Homo sapiens: one gene and its partners. The protein of the gene in region 1 interacts with the protein of each later gene in a pairwise test. Each region holds a gene or a part of one and is shown on either strand. Other genes may lie near its edges. The genes, in order: KIAA1217, PTK6 and HSBP1.

Region 1 (7,838 bases):
TGGAGGTTACCTGGTGAAATTGTTGCTCTTAACGCAGAAGGGAAAATTCTGTTTTGATCTATGAGTCATATAGAAATGTATTATACTATGGAATCTGCGAAATTGTTTGTTAGTGGGGCTTGTAATACGGTCCGTGTGAGGCTCACACCTTTGCTCTAATTATTGTTTAAGATTAATTATTTTTTAATTATTGTTTCAGATTCTTTTATAGGGTCTTTGTTGGGAAACTCAAACAGTATCATTATGTTCCCCTCACATTTGGAAACCTAAGGCGCCCAGAGGGCTTATCTTGGGATCACACATAGGTGGCCATCTGTGCTGGTTTGCCAGGGACAGTCGTGGTGTCTTATTGTCCAGTTGTAATTATTAATAGTGTCTACTTTCCCTCTCACAAATGCTGGTTTATACTAAGTATAAGGTCACCCTAACCACCTGACACATTGCTGTCAAAACTAGGATTGGAGAGCCCACATTTCACATGCGCCAGATCATCCATTTAAGCAAATGTTATCCCAGTTGTTAAAAATCCTTTATTTCTGACTTACAGGGCCTCATACCATAGCAGCCTGTCTTTTAGAAACAGTTAATGTGGAACACATCAAACACGAGGCCTCTGGTTGAAACACTTTTGTTGACTTCTTTGTTTTTCACTTTGTTTTAATTGACTCTCACAGTTATGAATGCCTTTGAAAAGTACATTTTAAGGACTTCAGCAAGCATTAATTATTTCTTTTGTGTCCTGATGTCAAGTCATTTTCAACTATCTGGTTCTTAATAGGATTTAAAGTGAAAAAATATTAAATATGTATCAGGGCAATTCCACTTACTCTTGGTTCTTGCAATGATTTCTCTGTTGAAAAACTTACATAGGCCAGGCACAGTGGCTCACGCCTGTAATCCCAGCGTGATTACTTTGGGAAGCCAAGGTGGGCGAATTACCTGCGGTCAGGAGTTCGAGACCAGCCTGGCCAATGTGGTGAAACCCCGTCTCTACTAAAAATACAAAAAAAAAAAAAAAAAAAAAAAAAAGCCAGGCGTGGTGGCACATGCCTGTAATCCCAGCTACTCAGGATGCTGAAGCGGGACAATTGCTTGAACCCTCGAGGCAGAGGTTGCAGTGAGCCGAGATCGCGCCATTGCACTCCAGCCTGGGCGACAAGAGCAAAACTCCGTCTCAAAAAAAAGGAAAAAATGCCGGGCGCGGTGGCTCATGCTTGTAGTCCCAGCACTTTGGGAGCCCGAGGCAGGCAGATCACAAAGTCAGGAGATCGAGACCATTCTGACTAACACGGTGAAACCCCATCTCTACTAAAAATACAAAAAGTTAGCTGGGCGTGGTGGCATGTGCCTGTAGTCCCAGCTACTTGGGAGGCTGAGGCAGGAGAATCACCTGAACCCAGAAGGTGGAGGTTGCAGTGAGCCGAGATCATGCCACTGCACTCCAGCCTGGGTGACAGAGCAAGATGCTGTCTCAAAAAAAAAAAGGAAAGAAGGAAAAAAGGAAAAATTTACATGAAGGAAGTTGACATGCTTTCCACAACCCTATAATTGGCCTGCTGAGAAATCATATGCAATTGTTTACGATTTTTGTGATTAATTCTCTTTATGGTGAATGCCATTTACGTTGCGTTATCAACACCAATAATGGTCCAGTTCTGTAACGGGTTAGCTATGACTGCAAAATCACCATTTGTCTTTACAGCACTCTTTTATCTCGTCACTTGTCTTTCCTTTTAAATGACATTTGTTTTATGTGGTAGCTCATTTTGAGTCATGAATTGCAACATATGGAACCACTAACCAAGAAATAGTCTTGCACCTTTCCCTGTTAACAGAAACGGAGTTGAAAACTTAGCCTCCTGGTATTATTATTATTCTAGTTCTTTATATGACTGGAGGAAAATCAGATTTCAAGTTCTTCCCGCTTTCCTTATGCCTTTCACAGCAAATTTCAAAGTATAGCAGTAGGCAGATTGCAATGTAATAGCAATTTTTAAGCCCAGAAATTAAATTAAACCAGAAAGAAATACACCTACTTCTAGTTCAAATAGTGTTTCTTCCAGAAAGAAGAACATCTCCACAGTAACAGCAGTGACAATAAGAGTATTTTCATGAAGATCGGAGTTACCAGGTTTATATAGATTGCAGAATACAGCTACTGTTTTCCAGAGACACTGACAATCAGTGCTAAATTGTTAGGAAGGTCTCTGTGCTTTGGAGAAAGATATGGAATAGTCGGTGCAAGGGCAAATAGAGTGCCTTCTCAAATTGTTTTCAGTTCCTCTTCTTAAGGAGGAACAAAAGGCCAGTAAGTAATCCAATAGAAGCTTTTCCCTATAGAATGGTCAGAAAGTTTGATCATTCAAAAGAACATTATTTTACCATAAATACATGTCTAGGTTTCATGATCCTTAATGATTCATGTTAATTCTCTTCCCCCAATGCCTTTTTCTGTTGTGCATATCACAGAGTTTTGTTTCCTGGAATATCAGCAGAGAGGGCAGTGGGCTTGGCCCGTATGGGGGAGGGGAGGGTCCTAGCAGCTGGAAAGCAAGGTCGGCTGACCAAGGGGGTTCCTTGGGCTGCCTGGAAAATGGTAGTTCAGACCTGGTGGGAGACATTTCCCTATTTTTGTCCATCTAGGGGTCAACAGAGGCCTGAAAGACTGCTCTGACACCTTCCAAACAGCCCCCAGGAAATCTTAATCAGCATCTGCCAATGGATCTTTTCTGCCTGGGTTGAGCTAGCCAGGAGGGCCCTGGGGCAGGGTGCTGTTTGTGGCTGCCAACGGCTGTGGCAGCCCTCTGCTGCCTCCTTCATCCTGGGGTTTTTGCCTTTGTGCTACACCAAATGACAGGTAGGAGCTGTTAAGCACGGGCTCTCTGGACACCAGAGCAAGGGGATTGGGGTCACAACCAAAGGCTGCGGGACATCTGATTTGGGCTGCTGCATCTCCTGCTACAGTGTTTCTCTCTCTCTCTCTCACACACACACACACACACACACACACACACACATACTTTTCTCCCACCCTCCTCCCCACTCTTCCTAGCATTAATACTTTAAAGACAAATACACAACAGTATACAAGAATCAGGATGATCTGGACCTGAAAGGCTGAACACAGCAGGGCCCTCCTTCATGAACATTTTGCACCTAAGGAAATAATAAGGTTAAAACTAGATTCATCTGGCCTTTGCCCAGGGGCCACCAGGACAGAAACTGTGTAAGATTAGTTCCTCCTTAAAGCAAGATTGCCAGGTAATTCTGTTGCAAAGTCATAGAGACCTTAAGTTATCTGCCCTGCAAATCCCACTGCCTCTATTCAGGCTGCCGAGGCACTGCTTTAATTTTTTGAAAGATTCACCGCGTCTTCTTGGATTTCAAGAAAAATCCCGTTAAGAATTGAGGGGCTCTCTTCTTCCCCTCCTGACGTGAGTGTAACTCACTTCCTGGTATGTCTCCTTTCCTTTTGGCCTACATCCTTTGTCTGTTAGGTGCTTCCACATCCTTATGTCTTAAATGGCCAAAATACGTCACCCCCACTGCCAAAACACACAGGTCACTCGAGGTCACAATCTGGAACATAGGCTGGCCATTGTTCAGCACACATTCTTGATCTAAATCAATCTCAAACCTTGCTGGAATGCCCTGTAAACTGGGGCAAAGTATGGTCACCAGACTAACCATTGTCCTTTTTTACCCCTCCTGTGACGGGGCTACTACAGGTTACAAAATCGCGCTCTTCCTCCTAGCTACTGTGTTACTCTGAGATATCTGACATCGCAGAGCTAATGTTGCCTAAATTATTTTCCCATCCTCTTTTTTTTTTTTTTTTCGGACATCATGCCTCCTATTTTCACTCTCTGGGAACTCTGCCAGTTTTTCAAGGACTGGGTAAAGAACAAAATAAATATTTGTAGGTGGTTTAAAAGGAGAAGTATGTTGGTTGTAACTCTGCCTGTCCAAAGAAATGCATTTTCACTGTCTTTCAGATTTTTGGAGTCGTTAACTGGGAGAGCTTCAGAAGATTGACTTTACTAGTTTACCTTTCAGATTTGTGATTAAGGGCTGGGTGTGTGTGTGTGTGTGTGTGTGTGTGTAAGTGTGTTGGGGGAGGGAGGAGTCTGAGAAAGTGAGCAAGTACGTAGAAACTTTTTTTTAAAAAGTCCAGATTAAGTGATTGAAATCGACTGTGTGCAAATGACGCTATACCTCTTCATAGATGTTAATCGGGCCCTAAAAAGTTAGTGCCGGAAAGTGCTTACTTACAACACTCAGCATATACTCTTTCTTTCAAATTGTTTGGGATTTTTTTTTAAGGGAGTTCACTGAAATTTGGGAGGTTCAACAGGTTGCTGTTTTTTAATATGTGGATCACCCGATTTGGGAGGCTCACTCTGCCTCTGAGATTAAAGAGATGAGGGCACTGGCTCCCAGCGAAGGCTCTCGGCCTTAATCATGTGTGAAATGTTTTCCTTCCTCGGCTGCAGAGCCTCGGTGGTTTGCAGCAGTGGAACCAGGCAGGCCCAGTTGTGGGTAGGAGAGGCCGTCACCTGTTGAGGCCTCCCCCCCACACCCCCGCATCGCCCTGCCCTGGCAGAGCCCAGCCCCCAGTCCCCGGAGAGCGCGCCTGAGGACGGACGGACGGACGGACGGACAGACCTAGGGACGGAGGGCCAGGGGCAGGGGAGATCCAAGAGGCCCCGCGCTGGAATGCAGTTTTCTCGGGCGAGGGAGACTTTGCACCGGAGTGGAAAATAGTTTGGGGTGGGGTTTCGCACCGTCCCCTCCTCCCCAGCCCCGGGCCCCCTCCCAGGCGCTTTCTGGGAGCTTTTAGAACTGCGCTCTGAAGTTTCCAGAGAGCGAGGAGCTTTTGCGGCAGGCAGAGACAATGGAAGAAAATGAAAGCCAGAAATGTGAGCCGTGCCTTCCTTACTCAGCAGACAGAAGACAGATGCAGGGTAAGTAACAGACCCATTCAAAGATGGAGTTACAGGGACGCGTGCCCCTTGCCGCTTGCTGCTTTTTATAAACTGCAGCTCTGGGACCCGGCAAAGGAAAAAAAAAAAAAAGGCAATTTCTTGGGATGGTACATTTTCCAAACTGAGTAGAGCATAGAGAACTGTGATTTCTTAGGCTTGACTTTATCTCTGGCACGATTTTCTTAAGCAGCAAAAGAGGTGGTGGGGTGATGTCACATTTGTAGTGCAGTGAGCCATCAGCATGAGCTGTATCTCTAAGCAATGACAAATAAATCACTAAGCAGCTTTTAATCATTTCCCCCCGGGGCTCCAGCCACGGGAGAAAGGAGCTGTTTTTGTGAAACTGTCTCTAGGACCGCAGCTTCCATTCATTGGTTGGGGGATTCCATGTGGCAGATGCATGCTGGCTGCAAAGTTTGTGCAGAATTTTAGAGTTAAATCACAGAAACCAGGCATGTTTTATTTTACAGATCCGAGCAGCAGGGGAGGGCTTGAGCATCTGGGTGATAGATAGAACTCTGGATCTTCTTTTATGTTTTAATTCAAAACTTGGGAGTTGTTGGACAATTTTGGTAAATTTTCTCCAGGCAGTTTCCCTTTAATTGTGTTTATAATAGACTTGTCTTTTCCGTAGGGAATTTCCAGAAGCTTATGTTGTTCCAAAGAAATTTCGCACCGGGTTGGGTGGCCAGAGGAGGTCCCTGCTCTCTGGCATCTGATGCCTGTGATGCCAAGAGCTGATTCTGTGGGATCCTATAGGCAGCATGTTCATAAACCACACAGCCCTGGACCACCCGCCCCACCCTCCCTCAGGTTCATGCAGGGGCCAGTACACAACAAAAAGACGTGCGGGAGTGCAGTGCTGTGCGTGGGAGTAGGGATTATGCACAGGGGAAAAGGTGTGTGTTTTATGAAAATGTGAAAGGGAAGTAACACATGACTCATCCACGCTGAAAATGCAAAGCTAAGCCAGTCAGGAGAACTTACAATGACAAGAGATAGAAATCCCCCAGTGAAATGCAGAAAACTTGAAGTTTTGTAATGGCTGGAGAATCCCTGAGTCTGAACAGTCATCTGTCGAAGTGTCTGCCTTCGTGCTGCCAAAGCACAGCACTCTCCTTCAGGCTACCGGGGTCAGTGGCATCCAGTGGAAGATAAGGCTACCTCGTCCCCCTGACCCCCGCAACCCCCCACCCCCATTTTCTAGGACAGGATCCTACTTCAGGAATTCAACCTCTGGGCCTGTCCTGAAAGAGATGACTCAGATTCTAGAGGGGCCATTAGAAAGGGATCCATTTAAGAAATGACTTTCCAACAATCAGGGCAATTCAGAGGCTTCAGAGGCTAGGATGGTCAGCCTGAGACAGTGTGCTCCTTTGCTCACTAATTCATTCATTCAGTGAATATTGAGCATCTGTTATGTAGACGTCACTGTTTTAGCTGCCAGACATCCAGTGGTGAACAAAGCAGACTAAAAATACTTGCCTTCATTTAACTTCCAGTGTAAGGACCAAGTTTCAGGGGGTGGGGAGCTGGTAGAGACAGACAATGAACAAATAAATAAAATATATAGCATGTTAGATGGCACGGCTGCTGGATTTAGCAAATAAAAATACAGGAGGCCCAGCTAAATTTGAATTTCAGGTAAACGGTGAATTTTTTTTTTTTTAGTATAAGTATATCCCATGCCATATTTGGGATATACTTATGTTAAAAATACTTCTCCATTATTTATGTAAAGTGCACATTTAACTGAGCAGTCCTGTATCTTATCTGGCAACCCTATTTGATGGAAATAAGGTTACAGAGAAAAATAAAGCAGGAAAAGGAATAAGGAGTGAAACTGTAAATAGGATTATTAGAAAGAGCTTCGCTGAAGTGATATTTGAACAAAGACAGGAGAGGTAACAGCAGGGATGTAATGTTTTCAAAGAACAGCAAGAACATGGGAGAAGGATGGGAGGAAAAGAGATTGAGAGGTAATCCCAGGCCAGATCACCTAGGGCCCATGAAACCATTGTAAGGACTAGAGCTTTTATTTTGAAAGAGGTGGGAATCTCCTGGCAGGTGGGACTACTTTTTTTTTTTTTTTTTTTTTTTTTTTTTAGAGAGGGTCTCATTTGTCACCCAGACTGGAGTGCAGTGGTGTGATCATAGCTCACTGCAGCCTTGAACTCTTGGGCTCAAGCAATCCTCTGGCCTTAGCTTCCAAATAGCTGGGACTACTGGGACATGCCACCATGCATGGTTGTATTGTATTGTATTGTATTGTATTGTATTGTATTGTATTGTATTGTATTGTATTGTATTTTATTTTATTTTAGAGAAGGGGTCTTGCTATGTTGCCCAGGTGAGTTACAAAGGGATTTGTCTTTTTAAATGGGGTAATACTGGGTGCTGTATTGAGCACAATCCAAGTAGGGTTGAGGGAAGGGCAGGGAGGCCTTTAGGAAGCTTCTGCAGTCAAGGAGGCAAGAACCAGGGCTAGCTTGGACCAGGCGGTGATTAGCAGGCGGTGATAAGCCAGCAGATTCTAGGTGTATATTGAAGGTAATGCCCAAAGCATTTCCTGTAGCCTGGGCAGCATAGTGAGACCCCATCTCTAGAAAAAAAAATTTAGCTAGGCATAGTGCCCTGTAGTCCCAGCTACTTGGGAGGCTGAGGCAGGAGGATCACTTCAGCCAGGAGGTTGAGACTGCAGTTAGCCATGATTACACCACTGCACTCTAGCCTGGGTAACAGTGTAAGATTCTGAAAGAAAGAGAGAGAGAAAGACAGAGAGAAAGAGAAGGAAGGAAAAAGAAAAAAGAAAAAAAAAGAAGAGAGAGGAGGGGAGGAGAGGAGAGGAAAAAA
Region 2 (7,849 bases), on another chromosome or scaffold:
GCCACCCCAACTCCGACGCCTCCCTGCGTCCCCAGCCCTGCTGGCCACACCTGCGCAGAGTTTCTGGGTCCCCACAGTTGCTGTTGGTGCTTCCTCAGTACCACCCCTGCCTCCCCTCCCTCAGAACGGCTCCCTCCTGCCCTGCACGCTCTGGCCAAGCTCTCTGGCCCCTCCTGCCCCCGTGCCAGGCAGCCAGTGGCCTCCGCCTGGATGGCAGCTGCCTAAAATCCCAGCCATGCTGAGATCCTCAGGGGCAGGGATGGGGTTTCTCTGCGCCCCGCACACCCCAGGCTCAGGTCTCATGCTGGGCGAGGTTCCCATGGGTGCTGAGGACCTCCCACGAGTGCCTCGGGCAGGGCTGGCTGGAGAAGCCCCTGCCCTCCCAGGGAGGGGCCCTGCCCCACGACTACCCTAGCAGCCAGTGACCCAGGCCCCAGGGAGGAGCGGGCCAGGTGGGCGGAGGGGATGGGAGCTCCCTGGAGAGGAGCCCATGTCCCCCGTCTCAGCCAGAGCGAGCCGGGTTCACCACGTGGCTGGGAGGGCTTAGAGCCAGGAGCCCCCGCAGGCAAGCACAGGCTCGGAGGCCGGGGCCGCACCCGACAGGACGTAGTCGGCACTCGGCTTCTCGCTGACCCTGATCAGGAAGGCGCCCGTGGCGTTGCCCTCGGCCTGCAGCCGACGCACAGCTTCCGAGCGGGAGATGCAGCCAAAGAACCACCTGCAGGGGAGGAGTCTGAGAACACGCGGACCTGGGCCCACCCCACGTGGACCCCACGCTGGCCCCAGCCTGCCCGCCTGGAACCCCAGCCGCCCTTGCCTGCCACCTCAAGCTCCCAGCCCTGACCACAGCTGCTCTCAGGAGCTGTCGCTGACCCAGACGCCCTGAATGTCCCGAAAGGCCAGGACAGGCCCCTGAGGACCCGGCGGGGGCAGGGGCAGGCGCTACCACACCCTGCCCTGAGTGGCCCGAGTCTAGGGGTCAGAGCCTAGGGTGGAGCTGGGGAGGGCAGCTGAGCAGGATGGCTGCCCAGAGCTGCCTGCACACACCCATGTGTGACGCACGCTCACACACACACAGTCACAAACCCCCACACATGCGCACAGTTCACCCGCACACCTGAACACACACGCGCATGTGTGCTCACTTGCCCACACGCTCACACGCACGCACACACAGCCACTCGCGCGCACTAACTCCCGGCTGCGGGGTGTGGGCCAGCCCTGGACTGTGGACTTCCAGGTGGAGCTTGCAGAAGCTCCAGGTGACCTGCGCCCTTTGTGTGTCTGACTCCCTCAGGTCACTGGAACACAAACCCCACACAGAAGACCACGGCCCAGCATGGAGCCCCTGGGGTCCACCCCCTCCACTTCCGCACACCTGGAAGCACTGCCCCACCTGCCCCTCCAACCACCTGGCCTCCCGCCCCCCCCCTCACCTGGCCTCCCGCCCCCTCCTCACCTGGCCTCCCGCCCCCTCCTCACCTGGCCTCCCGCCCCCCCCCTCACCTGGCCTCCCGCCCCCTCCTCACCTGGCCTCCCGCCCCCTCCTCACCTGGCCTCCCGCCCCCCCCTCACCTGGCCTCCCACCCCGTCCTCACCTGGCCTCCCGCACCCCCCTCACCTGGCCTCCCGCCCCCCCCTCACCTGGCCTCCCGCCCCCTCCTCACCTGGCCTCCCGCCCCCTCCTCTCCTGGCCTCCCGCCCCCTCCTCTCCTGGCCTCCCGTCCCCTCCTCTCCTGGTCTCCCGCCCCCCCCACCTGGCCTCCCGCCCCCCCTCACCTGGCCTCCAGCCCCCCCCACCTAGCCTCCCGCTCCCCCCCCCACCTGGCCTCCCACCCCCTCCTCACCTGGCCTCCTCCCCACTTCTCACCTGGGCGAGTTCTCAGGACTCAGGGTCTTTGCACCTGGGAGCTGACCAGCCTCCGGCCAGACCCCACCCCTGCACCCCTGCTCACTAACGAGGTCGTGGGTCTGCGCGTGACCCTGCTAACGAGGTCGTGGGTCTGCACGTAATAGAGGGGTCTCCACCATGGGCCCCTGCCCGACGGCCTCTTTACAGCCTCCCCTGCTTGTTGCTTGGGTCCCCCGGGAGCTAACCCTACACAGCCTGTGACTCACGCACACACACAGTGGGTGCCCAATCACTGATGAGAAACGCGGGATCTCAGGAGCGTGACCCTCCTCAGCCTGAGCTCCGGGCAGCTGTGGAAGCCAGGGCCAGGCCACACCAGCTGCTGTCTGGTTCCCCGCAGGGCACAGCAGGCAGGAAGTTTGCCCGGCAGCCGGCCCGCTCCCCTAACTAGGTCGTGTGTCTGGTTCCGGCACTTTGGAAACTGGGCAAGCTTCAAGCTTCGTTTCCCCCAAAGGCCCTGGAACGCTCCGACAGACCTTGTCACTGGCCACCGGGCCCCAGAAGTCCACCCTGGACCCTCTGTCCTCCCTGGGTCCCGGCAATGCAGCGTCCACCCCCGAGCTGTGACAAGGATGAGCCCAAGGCAGGGGCCGTGCCCTCTGACCCCCGTGCTCCAACTCCCGCAGGGACAGTCCTGGGCACTCCTGGGCGCCAGCGCATGGGGCCTGCAGGGAGGATCAAGCGGGATGCCCAGCCTGGACTTTGGGGTGCAGGAAGATGGAACCGGGGTCCCCACCTTCTTGGGCCTCCCTGAGCAGCCCAGAGCCCTGTCCCTCCCCTGTGCCTAGAGGGTGGCCTGTGCCAAAGCTCCCAGCAGCCTAGGACACGCACGGTTCCGACTCCACCGTCTCCCTCTCGGCCAGGTAGTTGTGGGGCACATAGCCCTGGGCCACGGCCCCACCCGCCTCGTCCAGCAGCGTGGCCCACCACCACTGCTCCTCCTTCCTGGCCACGTGGAAGACGTCCCCCGCGCGGAAGCTCAGCTCCTCGTCCGTCCGGGACTTGAAGTCCCAGAGGCCCACATACTTGGGGCCCAGGTGAGCCTGGTCCCGGGACACCATGGCGGGCGGGCGCAGCGGCAGGACCAGGCTGTGGCCCAGCTGGAGCACCCAGAGCTGGGCGTGGCAGGCGGGCCGTCCCACTTCCTCATGACAGGCCGGGAAGCAGCCACACCCAGCACCCACAGGCGCTCCAGAGCACCCCGGCTCCTCCTGAGGGCCCAGCCGGCCCCACAAGTCCTCAGGCCCACTGGGGCCCATCTGAGCACTTAGCGCCCGCACTATGGGAACCCACTGGGCAAGCACCGCCAGGGCCGGCCTGAGCGCAGGAGAGGGGGAGGAGGACCTCCCGGTTGGGGCTTCTTGGGGGTCCAACTTATGGACACTCAGGCACTCAGGGAAGCCAACGGCCCTCTGGGAACAAGCCTCGCAGCCTGAGGGCAGGAAGGTGAGGGCTGCAGGCGCTGCCTTCCCAACCCTCAGAGCTGCGGGGGCACAGGTGGGGGCCGCCTCTCTCCCCGCTTCCGGCAGCTTCCCCTCCACCCGTCGGTGCCCTCACCCAGCCCCAGACTCCACCCCTGAGCACAGGGCCCAATGTCAGGAGCTGCTGTGGGCAGGCGTCCTGAGAGCGGCCTCATGGGCAGGCCCGCCCTCGGGTAAGGGCCAAGCAGGGAAGAGGGAGTGGAATCAGGGCAGCGACAGCTGTGTGGGTCGGCCCGGAGGACTTCCCGGAAGAGGAGGGCCCGAGGGTTTTGGGGGATCCCCGGGGAGGCAGAGCCAGGGGCACCCACGGCTGAAGAAACGGGCACTGCCTTCCTCCACACGGACGCCAGGGGGCAGGCAAGGACCGTGAGTGCGGCCTGGAAGCGCCCATGGCGCTGGGGCCCAAGGCCACAGGTCCCTCCCAGGCAGCCCCTCCCGCCTCCAGCCTCTGCCTCCTCCTGTCCAGCCCGCAGGACCCCTGCCCCCTTCCAGCTGGCCTCCCTTCTCCCGACTCATGCCTGAGTGAGCCCTGCCGTGACCCCCACCTGCACCCGACGGCCGCCTGCCCCCCAGCCCCTGAGACTCGGGACACCCCCTCCCTGGAGGCCCCTCCCCGCCCCACCCTCCCACTGACCCTACTGTGTCCACCCGGGAGCTCCAACCCAGGGACCTGGACTGGCAGCCACAAGGGGGCAGGAAGGGGCGGGAAGGGAAATTCAAAGTCTGCAAGGGGTGGTAAGGAAAGTCCCTAAACTGCGTATTTCAACTTTTATTTTTATTGCAAAGAGAAATAATGGCACCTTCCACTCATTGTTTTGAGATTAAGAACAATAATCTGGATTATTTAACAGGCTCATAGATTTCTGGGCAGCCCAGCTCAGCGCTGACCAAGGTGGGGAGGGGCAGCGGGGTGCCGGCCTGGGCAGTGTCCCTCAGGCCCTCCCAGCTCTGTCTGGGGTCGGTTGGGGAGGATGCAGGGGGAGGGGTGGGGGGTGGGGAATGCGGAAGGAGGGTGCCGGGGCACCTGGCCGGGCAGCGTCCCTCAGAGCCCGGCCAGACTCTGGGCCCGTGAGTCTATGTCCAGGAAGCCTCGAGTATCCCTGAGTTCGGACGTGCAGGACTTTCAGTCTAAGCCACACCAGGAGGCAGGAACGTCCCCAGCCCCTCCCAGATACCCAGGAGCACCAAACCTGTTCAGCTGGTGGCTGGCGAGATGCCTAGGAGGGCACAGGTGCCACAGACACACCTGGTCCCCTTAATCCCAGTGGCGGCTGCAGAGAGCACAGAGGGCGAGGCCTTCTGTGCCAGAGGAGCCCCCAGGCTGCTGTGCTGGGGACCTGCCAGAACTGGAAGCTCAGCTCAAGGCCTCAGTGGGCCCAGGTACCAGAACCAGCCCCTCCCCTAGGTTCTCCCATGCAGATGGAGCTGGGCAGGTGGCCAGGGTCCCAAAGGCTCAGATAAAGCCTCTTGCCTCCACCATCTGCAGGGGTCCTGGTTCCTGCTGCTTCCCTCCGCTTGGCCTTGTTCCTCCGATGCACGGGCCCCAGGAAGCCCCCGCGCTGCCTCCGTTCTCGGAGCCTCCGAGTGGCCTCTTCCTTCCCCGGGGCCACCTGTCTCTGCACACGGGAGTCTCATCTCTTAGCTCCCTCCTGAGCCAGGCTTTGGCCGGGGCCTGTGGACGGCAGCCATCAGCACTTCGGCTCAGCAGGTACAGAGCTGACCCCAACTCTAGGGGACAAGGACTCAGTCAGGCCTGAACTTGTCTCCAAACTTTCTGTCCCCGAAAGCCTTCTGGGCACAGCTGCCAACCTGGGCTCCCAGGAGGGTGGGGGGCAGGGTCTCCGGGGGCCACAAACAGACCCCACCGGCCCCCTTGCTTCTTGACGTGTTTCACGAAGACCTGAGCAGAAGCTTCCCTGAGCCAGACGTGGGGAGACGAGGGCGGACCCTGCACATCCCTGCCCCCTCCTGCCTTGGTGACCCCCGAGGACTCACACCCAGAGGCTTCCTGAGCCACTTGCTGCCCAGCATACCATGGCATCTACCTCCGAGCCCCCAACCGACCCTGCCTGACCCTGCACAGGCAGAAGACTCCAAATCCCCCACGGCCCACCCTGAGGCCCCTGGAAATAGCCTCCAAGGGCAGCTCCCAGGTCACCAAGCCTCCCGGCCCACCCTTCCTGTGCCACCTGGAACCCACCCAGGGAGATGGAATCGGCAGCTCCTGCCAATGCCCTTGGGGCTCACGCTCTCTGGGCACCATGATGTCCTGGGCTGGGGGTCCGGGCGGCATGGGGGCCGCTCCAACCTGCATTTTCTAGCCACGTGGACCCGTACGCTCCAGCTCCTGGGTCTGGGTTTGGGGGGCTGAGCCTGTGTGTGATGTGCGCCTGTGTGCGTGTCTGAGTGGGTCAGTCCCGGCTTACTGAGTGCTGTGTGCGTGAGTGGGTTTGTGCACAGGCCGCCAGTGTGTCTGTGAGGGGCAGGTGACGGTGCCACCCCGTGCCTACATACCACACATCCAGTGGGGTCAACACCACGGTCTGCCTGGGAGTCAGCACTGGTCATTTCCACAAACCCAAGCTGGGACTAGGGAGAGAACTGGGCCTTTGGCTCTTCACCCTGGGAGGGAGTCCAGGGGACCCAGGCAGGAGACACACAGGGCTCAGGGTTCCTCACCCAGAGCCTCCGAGGCTTCTACCCACCCTCCTGTGCCGTTGTCTCTCTTGAGAGGCCAGGGACACGTGTCACACTGCACGGGGAACGTCAGCCCCAGCCCTCCGTCTGCACGAGTCACACTGCACGGGGAACGTCAGCCCCAGCCCTTCGTCTGCACGAGTCACACTGCATGGGGGACGTCAGCCCCAGCCCTCCGTCTGCACGAGTCACACTGCACGGGGGACGTCAGCCCCAGCCCTCCGTCTGCACGTCTGCCTGGTGCACGAACATGTGTGCACGCCAGGGCCTGAGGCCCACAGCCAGAGGCTCCTCGGTCCGGCAGACCGGCATCCCTTCGAGTTGGCGCTCTGCAGGGAGGAGGGGCTGGCCTGGCTGGAGCCCAGAGCGTTGGGTCACGTGAGGACTCAGGGGTGGCATCTGTGGATGGCGTGCAGCTTCTCCCGCAGCGTGGCGAAGGAGGGCCGTTCCTCGGGGCTGCTCCTCCAGCACTCCAGCATGAGCACGTAGACCTCCGCCGGGCAGGCAGCCGGGCGCGGCAGCCGGTACCCTCGCATGATCTGCTGCAGCGTCTCGTGGTTGGTCATCCCTGGGAGGCGCGGGGCAAGAGCTGCCTCGATTCTGCCTGGGGGTCCCTATGGAGGAGGCCTCCTGTAGCCCCCCATGTCATCTGCCTGCCCTTGGCCAGACCCTCCAACCCCTTGCCGACAGCGTCCAGGCCCGGGGCCAGTGACTCCTGGGCAGAGCCTGCATCCTCCCTCTGGCTGCCTGGGGACCCACCTTCATAGGGACACTGGCCATAGGTGAAAACCTCGTGCAGCAGGACGCCGAAGGACCAGACGTCTGACTTCTGGGAGAAGACACGATAATTGGCCGCCTCAGGCGCTGTCCACTTGACCGGGATCTTGGAGCTGCTGCTCGGGGAGTAGATGTCGTCCTGGGGGCGAGGGAAGGCCCCTGGTAGGGCAGGTGGACCGGGGTCCCCTCACCCACCCCCTCTGGGTCAGGGGCCCAGAGCCTCCGCTGACCTTGAGCAGCCGGGCCAGGCCGAAGTCAGCCACCTTGCAGGCCAGGCCGTCGTCCACGAGCACGTTCCGGGCGGCCAAGTCCCGGTGCACAACGCGCTGCTCCTCCAGGTAGCTCATGCCCTCAGCCACCTGGCAGGCAAAGCCCAGGAGTGGCGGCAGACGCAGGGCCCGGCCCTCGGGGGCTGCAGGAGACAGCGCGGGGTCTTTTAGGGCACGGGGCCAACGGCCGGTGAGGCCAGCGTCCACCCACGTCACCTTCCCCCATGCCTCAGCCTCCTCATCTCTAAGACGTGGCGAGGATGGCATGGCCGGCTAAGGCCACGGGAAGCCCCAAGTGAGACAGGGCGAGGGTCCTGTACTCACCACAGTGACCCGGCAGCCGGCCCAGGCCCCCGACAAAGACCAGGGCAGAGAAGAGCCAGAGGCTGGGCTGGGTCTATGTCACATTAGACCAAGGCTGGTGACCCAGATGGGACCGCGCCCCCCACCGCCCCCGAACACCAGCTCCAGCCCCGGAGCCACAAGGCTCTGGCCTGGCCCAGACCTGACGCCAGCCCCCTGTTGGCTGGAGACCAGACAGGGATGGGATCTGCAGCCGGGGCCACCTGCTCCCGGTAGAGAGGCCCGGTTCACCTCGGAAACCCCGCAGGTTCAGCTCTGCGCCAGGAGGGAAGGGGCGGTCGCAGGCGCGTCAGGGCCACGTGGCAGCAGGGAGGGGACTCACTGCCCAGGAAGGCCTGCAGGTTCCCCTT
Region 3 (7,416 bases), on another chromosome or scaffold:
GAATAACGATGACATAACCCATAGAAAGCAGTTATGTGATTTACTCACACAGTGAATGAACCCCACCTACTGTGAAGATAAAAGCAAATTTTAGAGTCTGTCTTCAACATCCCAAATCTGTATTTCACAGTGACTTAAAATGTGGTCCACAGCAAGCCCAGAAAATAGGAAATTAGGCATGTTTTACTGTACATTCTGCTTAGTACTCTACGAATCTAAAAATACTCAGGAACCATTTTATTTTATTTTTTTGAGACAGAGTCTTGCTCTGTCTCCCAGGCTGGAGTGCAGTGGCATCATCACGACTCACTGCAAACTCTGCCTCCTGTCTCAGTCTGCCAAGTAGCTGGGATTACAGGCGTGCACCACCACACCCAGCTAATTTTTGTACAGACAGGGTTTCACCATGTTGGCCAGGTTGGTCTCGAGCTCCTCACATCAACTGATCTGCCCTCTGCCTGCCTTTGCCTCCCAAAGTGCTGGGATTACAGGCATGAGTCACCACGCACCAGTACCTTTTTTTTTTTTTTTTTTTTTTTGAGACAGAGTCTCACTCTGTCGCCCAGGCTGGAGTGCAGTGGCGTGACCTCGACTGCAACCTCCGCCTCCCTCAGCAACATTCATTTTTATAGAGAATTAAAATGTTATAAATGAAACAAGAGAAAAGTGAGTCTAAAACTTATTTTTCACACATACAGAGGAAAAGGATCACCATGCACTCTGCTGAGTGATTCTGTACATTTACCTATCTTGCTGTGTAGGTACTTTGAATTACTAGGCTTTCCTCTGACATCTGAAACTATTCAGAGGAAATTTAAATGAACTCCAGGGTAAAAGCTTAATGTGGCCACAATCTAGTTCACCTATGTCAAGTTACCAAGAAAGTCTCCAGAATTTAAGCCATTTAAGAAGGTGGTAATGTGGGTGACTTATCAGTTATTTCCATAAAAAAAAAAAAAAGCAATGGAAAATCTTCCAGTGACAGGCTTTATAGGCCAACAAAAAGACACCTTAATTATTAGCTGGAATGATAAAAACTCAGTGGTTATCTAATGTTAGCCAGTGGTCTTCACTAATAGTGACAGAAGTCTAATTAATAAAAACTGGGAAAATAAATTCGGTGTAAAGAATGAGTTTGGCATGAAAAATTTCAAAACATCAAGTCCACAGCAGGTAAACAATACAGTGATGCTTGCTGGGATCATGGCTGGGAACTGATCTACAGAATGTCTGACTACATACAAATTATACTTACAGGTTCTCTCTATTCTTTTAAGACAAAATAAAAAAAAAGACCGGGCACGGCGGCTCACACCTGTAATCCCAGCACTTTGAGAGGCTGAGGCGGGCAAATCACTCAAGGTCAGAATTCGAGACCAGCATGACCAACATGGAGAAACCCCGTCTCTACTAAAAATACAAAATTGGCTGGGTGTGGTGGCACAAGCCTGTAATCCCAGCTACTCGGGAGGCTGAGGCAGGACAATCGTTTGAACCCAGGAGGGCAAAGGTTGCAGGGAGCCGAGATCGTGCCATTGCACTCCAGCCTGGGCAACAAGAGCAAAACTCCGTGTCAAAAAAAAAAAAAAAAAAAAAAAGAAAAGAAAAGAAAAAAAAAATTGCCCCCTTCCTCACCTTCAACTCTTTTGCGTGGCAGGTATCTTGTTTTCACTTTCCAGTTCTTCCACCCCAGCCTGTGTCATGAGGTCCGCGATATTCTTTTCCAGATCATCAATGCGACTACTCATATCATCAAGTGCTGAAGTTAAAGACAACGCGTGCCAACATCTCATTGAGCCTTTTTCCTCCCGTCCCTGCAGACTACAGCCTTAAACACAACGACTTTAGGGAAACTGGTCTTCCAATTTTCTTTCGACACTGTTACACGCTGGTGGGTAAGAGTACAGGACTGTGGGGCATGGCTACCCCGCATCGGATTCCAGCCCTGACCCTTACTAGTGATGGAACCCCTAAACCTCAATTTATTCATTTGCTAAAGATGATAACACTACAACCCACTCATAAGGTCATGCTGAGCATCAAAAGACACACACAAAAGCGCTTAGTTCACAGTGCATGGTCCACCACACCAGCTATTAGGATTGGTAGACGTATGCTCCTTGAGCCAGGAGTCTAACTCAGCTTTGCCCCTAGCTCTCGGCGCAGTCCTTCTCAGAAACACAGTACAATCCAAGCTCAAATTCTACAAGTGAATGGCTGAAGCTAGCCTGAAAACTACTCATTTATCCCCACCACTGCCCGGCAAATAGGCTCCAAAGGCCCACAGGAGGCCGACTGCAGATAAAAAGGATATTTCTCCCAATGATCTGGTCAGACATGGTCTGAAATTTATCTTGCATCTGCTGCAGGAGTGTCTGCACCTAAGAAAAACCGAAACAAACAAACACGGTCCACATCGATCCTGAGACAACTTCCTGGGATCAGGACGCAAGCCCTGGTCCCGGGGTTCCAGCCCCATTTCTGCCTCTGGACAGCTGTGCGGCCTTCAGCAAGATCTTCCTTCTCTGGGCTTCCGTTTTCCAACCTGTCCAATTAGACTGCTGGGCTGGGGAGGCCGCTGCGACTCAAAGCTCAGGGTCTTTAGGTTGTTTCTGCCGGGCTGGGGCACCCGGGGGTGTGTGAGGAGTTGAAGGGCGGGGAGGGTGTCAGAGGTAGGCGGGAGGGACCCGGAGGGCGTTCGCGACAGATGAATGGGGCTACTGGAAGGGGTCGGGCTTGGGGGCGCCCGCGGGGAGACTGGCCCGCACCGAGCGCCCCGGGGGTCAAGGTGGCCGGGAGCCTCGGCCAGAGACGCTTCCAGAAACGGGGCCTCGGCAGACGCCACGCGCGGCCGCGGTGGGCGCGCCTCTGTCCAGCAGGGCTTGGCCCGGCGCCGCCCGGGAAGGCCGCGGCCTCCGGCCCTCACAGCCGTCCCTTACCACCGAGGTGAGGTCCTGCACGGTCTTGGGGTCAGTCTCGGCCATCTCCCCGATGCCCAGCTTGGCGGTGATGTCTCAGACCGTAACCTACACTTCCGTTTGTCCGCTCAGTCGCCCCGGGCCGCTGCTTCTCGCGACGAGACTGGCAGCTCGCGGGACCGCGGGGCATTATGGGAGTAGTAGTTTCTCCCGCACCGGAAGGGCCTCGAGGCCGCGCGCTTCCGTTCCAAGGAGCGGCCCCACCCCACTCTCCCCGCCTTCTTTCGCATAGCCCCTCCCCTCCCTCTATGCCCCGCCCCTCACGCAGCGCGCCGTCAGTGGGGTGGAAAGTGAGACCAACTCAGAAATGGAGCAATAGAGGCAGGGAGTGGTCTTGGCCTCTCTTCCAGGCTGTAGTCAGTCGAAAGACGGCTCTGGGGTTTCTTTGGCCTGTCGGGACGAACTTACAGAACTTTTGCCCTTCAACAAGCCCCACTGTACCCTTGTAACTGCCCCCAAGCCAAGGAACATGACCCACCCCTACCCGCCCCGGGAGCCCCATGGCTCCTGTCCTGTTCTGTCATCTCCACCCTATGAAGGTGGCCAGCGTCTGGAGTTTAGCCCAGTAGGTTCATTGTGCCCGTCAGGTTCATATGAGGGGATTCAGACAGGAAGCTGTCCATCATGCCTGGCTTCTTTCACTCCACGCAATGCCTGCTGTTGAGTGGGGAAGGCTTCCGGCATCAGGGTTAGACTGTGGGTTTGGGTGTTGAAGGAGGTGGGCACTGCTGATTTGGAACCTCAAGTTCCAACCCCACAGGTGGTCTTTAGGATTGGGTCTCATGGCAAGGGGATAGGAGAGTCCTTGACTGCGGGCCTGGCATGTTCTGGAAACTTTCACACATCTCATTTAAGGACTGTGCTATGTGAGGGGTCAGCTCCAGTTTGACTTTAGCTAGGGAGAGGCTGTAAGGTGTTAGAGCTGTTACGGGAAAGGGTCCTGATCCAGACCCCAAGAGAGGGGGTTCTTGGATCTCATGCAAGAAAGAATTCAGGGCGAGTCTGTAAAGTGAAAGCAAGTTTAAGAAAATGAAGGAATAAAAGAATGGTTACTCCATAGACAGAGCCCTGAGGGCTGCTGGTTGCTCATTTTTATAGTTATTTCTTGATTATATGCTAAACCAGGGGTGGGTGATTCATGCCTCCCCTTTTTAGACTATATAGCGTAACTTCTTGACGTTGCCATGGCATTTGTAAACTGTCATAGCGGTAATGGGAGTGTAGCAATGAAGACAAGCAGGGTTCACTCTTATTGCCATCTTGGTTTTGGTGGGTTTTGGCCGGCTTCTTTACCGCAAGCTGTTTTATCAGCAAGGTCTTTATGACCTGTACCTTGTGCTGACCTCCTATCCCATCCTGTGACTTAGAATCCTTTAACTGTCTGGGAATGCAGCCCAGTAGTTCTCAGCCTCAGTTTACCCAGCTCCTATTCGAGATGGAGTTGCTCTTGTTCAAACGCCTCTGCCAGACCCACCAGTGTCTCTAACAAACCCGGAATCCAGTTGGCCTTGAGGCATGAGACTTCAACTCCCTTTACCACCCCTTCCCCCTCACTCACACCTTTGCCCCTCACCCTTCACACCTCATCCTTTCCTATAGAGAGATCTTCCTTTCTGTGTAAGTATACACAACTTTTTTGTAATTGGCTGTTGTCAACTGGTATTTGGCTAGTGCTTTACCCGACTACTTGAAATAAAAATATCTCAGTGTTTTAAGTTAATCCTCAGAAGACCCTGTGATATAATTATCATAATTTTACATTTTTGAGAAAACAGATGCAGAGGCGTTAAGAAACTGGAACAAGGTCATCAAATTAAGGAAGTAAGAGACGCAGGACTTCCTGACTCTGCATCTTCTCCTTTTTTCTCACCATTCTAGAATTCTCTGAGTTTTTTGAGCTTAGAGCAGAGTTTCTCAAGAGCTGCAATACTGGCATTTGAGTCAAGTCGTTCTTTATTGTTGGTGGTGGAGGGGGCACCCTGTATATTGTAGGACGTTGGGCAGCATCTCTGACTTCTACCTACTAGATGCCAGTATCTCAGTTTTCTTAAAAGACTTTTTTTTTTTTTTTTTTTTTTTTGAGATGGAGTCTTGCTGTGTTGCCTAGGCTGGAGTGCAGTGGCACCATGTCGACTCACTGCAACCTCCGCCTCCCCGGTTCAAGCGATTCTCCTGCCTCAGCCTCCTGAGTAGCTGGGATTACAGGTGAGCACCACCATGCCCAGCTAATCGTAAAAGACTTTTCATAAAACTTCAGAACTCCTTAAAAACTAGTGAATAGCCAAGGTGAAGAAAGCCCTCAGGCTTCTGACTTTAGACCCCAATCCCTGGGACTCCCACACTCAGCAAAGAAAGCTGGGTGCCTGCACCCTGGATCTCTGAGCAAACCTGTCTTATGGCTGTGGGCAACTCAGGAACATGAATTAGCACGAGAATCTGGAGTTTTTCTTTCCTTTTCTGGTAAGACACTTGTGGTTTTTTTTTTTCAAATTCCAATTGGAAATTTGCTTTACATGAACAACAAACAAACTTGATACTCTTTTAGTGGAGGCATTATTTGTTCCTTTATTTTTTGCACTTAAACAGACAGGCAGTATGCTTTCTCTGTGTGGAGACCAAGGTCTGTTAAAGGGCTGCTTTTCACGGAAGCTTCACTAATTTATACTCATGGCTGACATACTCACCTTGTGGGGCTGACACACCGAACCTAACTGAATATTGTCCCATTAACAAAACTAATGTATTACGTGTAAGGCACCAGTAATTAACCTTTAAACTTCGGTTTTGAACAACTCTCATTTTTAACCTTTATTTAAGTGTCATAGTTGTCTTACCTCCTCTTGGCATTTTTTTTTTAAAGCTCTTCCTAGATTAATTGCATGTTGTAACTCCCTTTTTCCATTCAAGACAGTTTTGTTTTACGTGCGCTTATTATGGTACTTTTATAATTGCTTTTTGGTTCTCTGGGCCATTCTTTTGACATGCCTCCTTTCTTGGATCTGTACTATGATAGGTGGCTGGGCATGGTGGCTCATGCCTGTAATCCCAGCACTTTGGGAGGCTGAGGCAGGCAGATCACTTGAGACCAGGAGTTCAAGACCAGCCTCGCCAGTGTGGCGAAACCCCATCTCTACTAAAAATACAAAAATTAGCTGGGCTAGGTGGCGTGCACCTGTAATCCCAACTATTCAGGAGGCTGAGCCAGGAGAATCGCTTGACCTGGGGAGGCAGAGGTTGCAGTGAGCCGAGATCTATCCCCTGCACTCCATCCTGGGCAACAGATTGTGACTCTGTCTCAAAAAACAGTAATAATAAAATACACTATGGAAGGTGTTGGTCTGTCCATGTGACCACATGCAATGAGGTGCTTTGTGCGTTTGCCTTGTGTGAGCAGCGATGGAATGATCCTAGCGGGGCCTTGGAGGAACTGGAATGTTCTTTGCCTAGTTGCACCTGCGTCAGCTCTGTAGGCCCAGCCCTGGGGCCCAGCAGCTGCTCCCCTGGTTTGCTTTCCTCCCAGGTTGCCTCATGCTGCTGCTGAGCAACCTTCACCTGATGGGCGGTGCCACAGCAGGGTCAGTGAAGGGTGCCCCTTCCTTCTAGTGACCTGGGCTGCCCTAGCCCTGGCCCTTCAGTAGCCATTCCAAACCTTTCTGGTCCCCCCAAATCCAGGACTTTATCCCCTTCACCCTCAGAGGATGACCTTATATTCTATTTTGTGGAGAAAATGGAGACTGTCCATCAAAACCCCTTAACTCCCGTCCTGCGTGCATTCCTAAGTTCCTACATTAACCCCCGTGTCACTAGCTAACGATCCTTTCTGTCTCAGGAAGCAGTGTTCTTCCTCGCGCACAGGGCTCTGCGTTTGTCTAAGGCAGAGAGACCTGGGCCCTGATCCCATTCTCTTTCCTCAACTCCAGGAACTTGCTTCCTGCATTCATTTTCTTTTTTCCAATGATTCCTCCTTCTCAGCACATAAAAGTGACCAACCCCTCGCCCCACCCCCGCTGCACAAAAAACAAATAGAAAATGGAAACCAGTCCAACCAGGGTGAACCTCCACTGACTGTGTGCCCTTGTTGAGCTACTGCTCATAGGGGAGCTTCTAGAAAGGAAGGACTTATTGTCTTAGTTACTTGATCCACTTCCTTACCTCCTGTTCATGCAACTTTGCTTGTTTTGCTTCTACTAAAATGGTTCTAGGTGCTGTGTGGACAGGTGATACAAAAGCCTGACTCACACGGTTGACATTCATTCATTCCATTTTCATTTCTCTTTGAGTGATCCTGACAAGCAGAGGGTCTCAGGTGGATATTACTGTGTCTTTGAGACCTCTCTAATCCTTATCTATCTCTCATTTTAATACAGAGAGTTTCATACGCAGACCTTAAGTAGACATAGTATCCAGCTAAAAGGTAATTATGCTTTTTTGTTTGTTT

Evidence for each region.
Region 2: the proteins of KIAA1217 (region 1) and PTK6 interact in binary tests that used the Homo sapiens proteins (3 or more experiments, as listed by UniProt).
Region 3: the proteins of KIAA1217 (region 1) and HSBP1 interact in binary tests that used the Homo sapiens proteins (3 or more experiments, as listed by UniProt).

Annotation. Positions count from the first base shown.
Region 1 is NC_000010.11:24,204,300-24,212,137, forward strand, and holds the start of KIAA1217 (sickle tail protein homolog), read left to right. Parts: upstream 1-4,838; 5' UTR 4,839-4,894; coding exon 4,895-4,964; intron 4,965-7,838. UniProt on the Homo sapiens protein: Required for normal development of intervertebral disks.
Region 2 is NC_000020.11:63,534,342-63,542,190, forward strand, and holds the start of PTK6 (protein-tyrosine kinase 6), read right to left. Parts: upstream 3,036-7,849; 5' UTR 2,974-3,035; coding exon 2,744-2,973; intron 719-2,743; coding exon 597-718; intron 1-596. Other genes in the region: tyrosine-protein kinase Srms, read right to left, coding at 6,477-6,658, 6,850-7,006, 7,098-7,279, 7,822-7,849. UniProt on the Homo sapiens protein: Non-receptor tyrosine-protein kinase implicated in the regulation of a variety of signaling pathways that control the differentiation and maintenance of normal epithelia, as well as tumor growth.
Region 3 is NC_000016.10:83,803,645-83,811,060, reverse strand, and holds the start of HSBP1 (heat shock factor-binding protein 1), read right to left. Parts: upstream 3,084-7,416; 5' UTR 2,985-3,083; coding exon 2,940-2,984; intron 2,382-2,939; coding exon 2,315-2,381; intron 1,757-2,314; coding exon 1,638-1,756; 3' UTR 1,636-1,637; intron 1-1,635. UniProt on the Homo sapiens protein: Negative regulator of the heat shock response. Negatively affects HSF1 DNA-binding activity. May have a role in the suppression of the activation of the stress response during the aging process.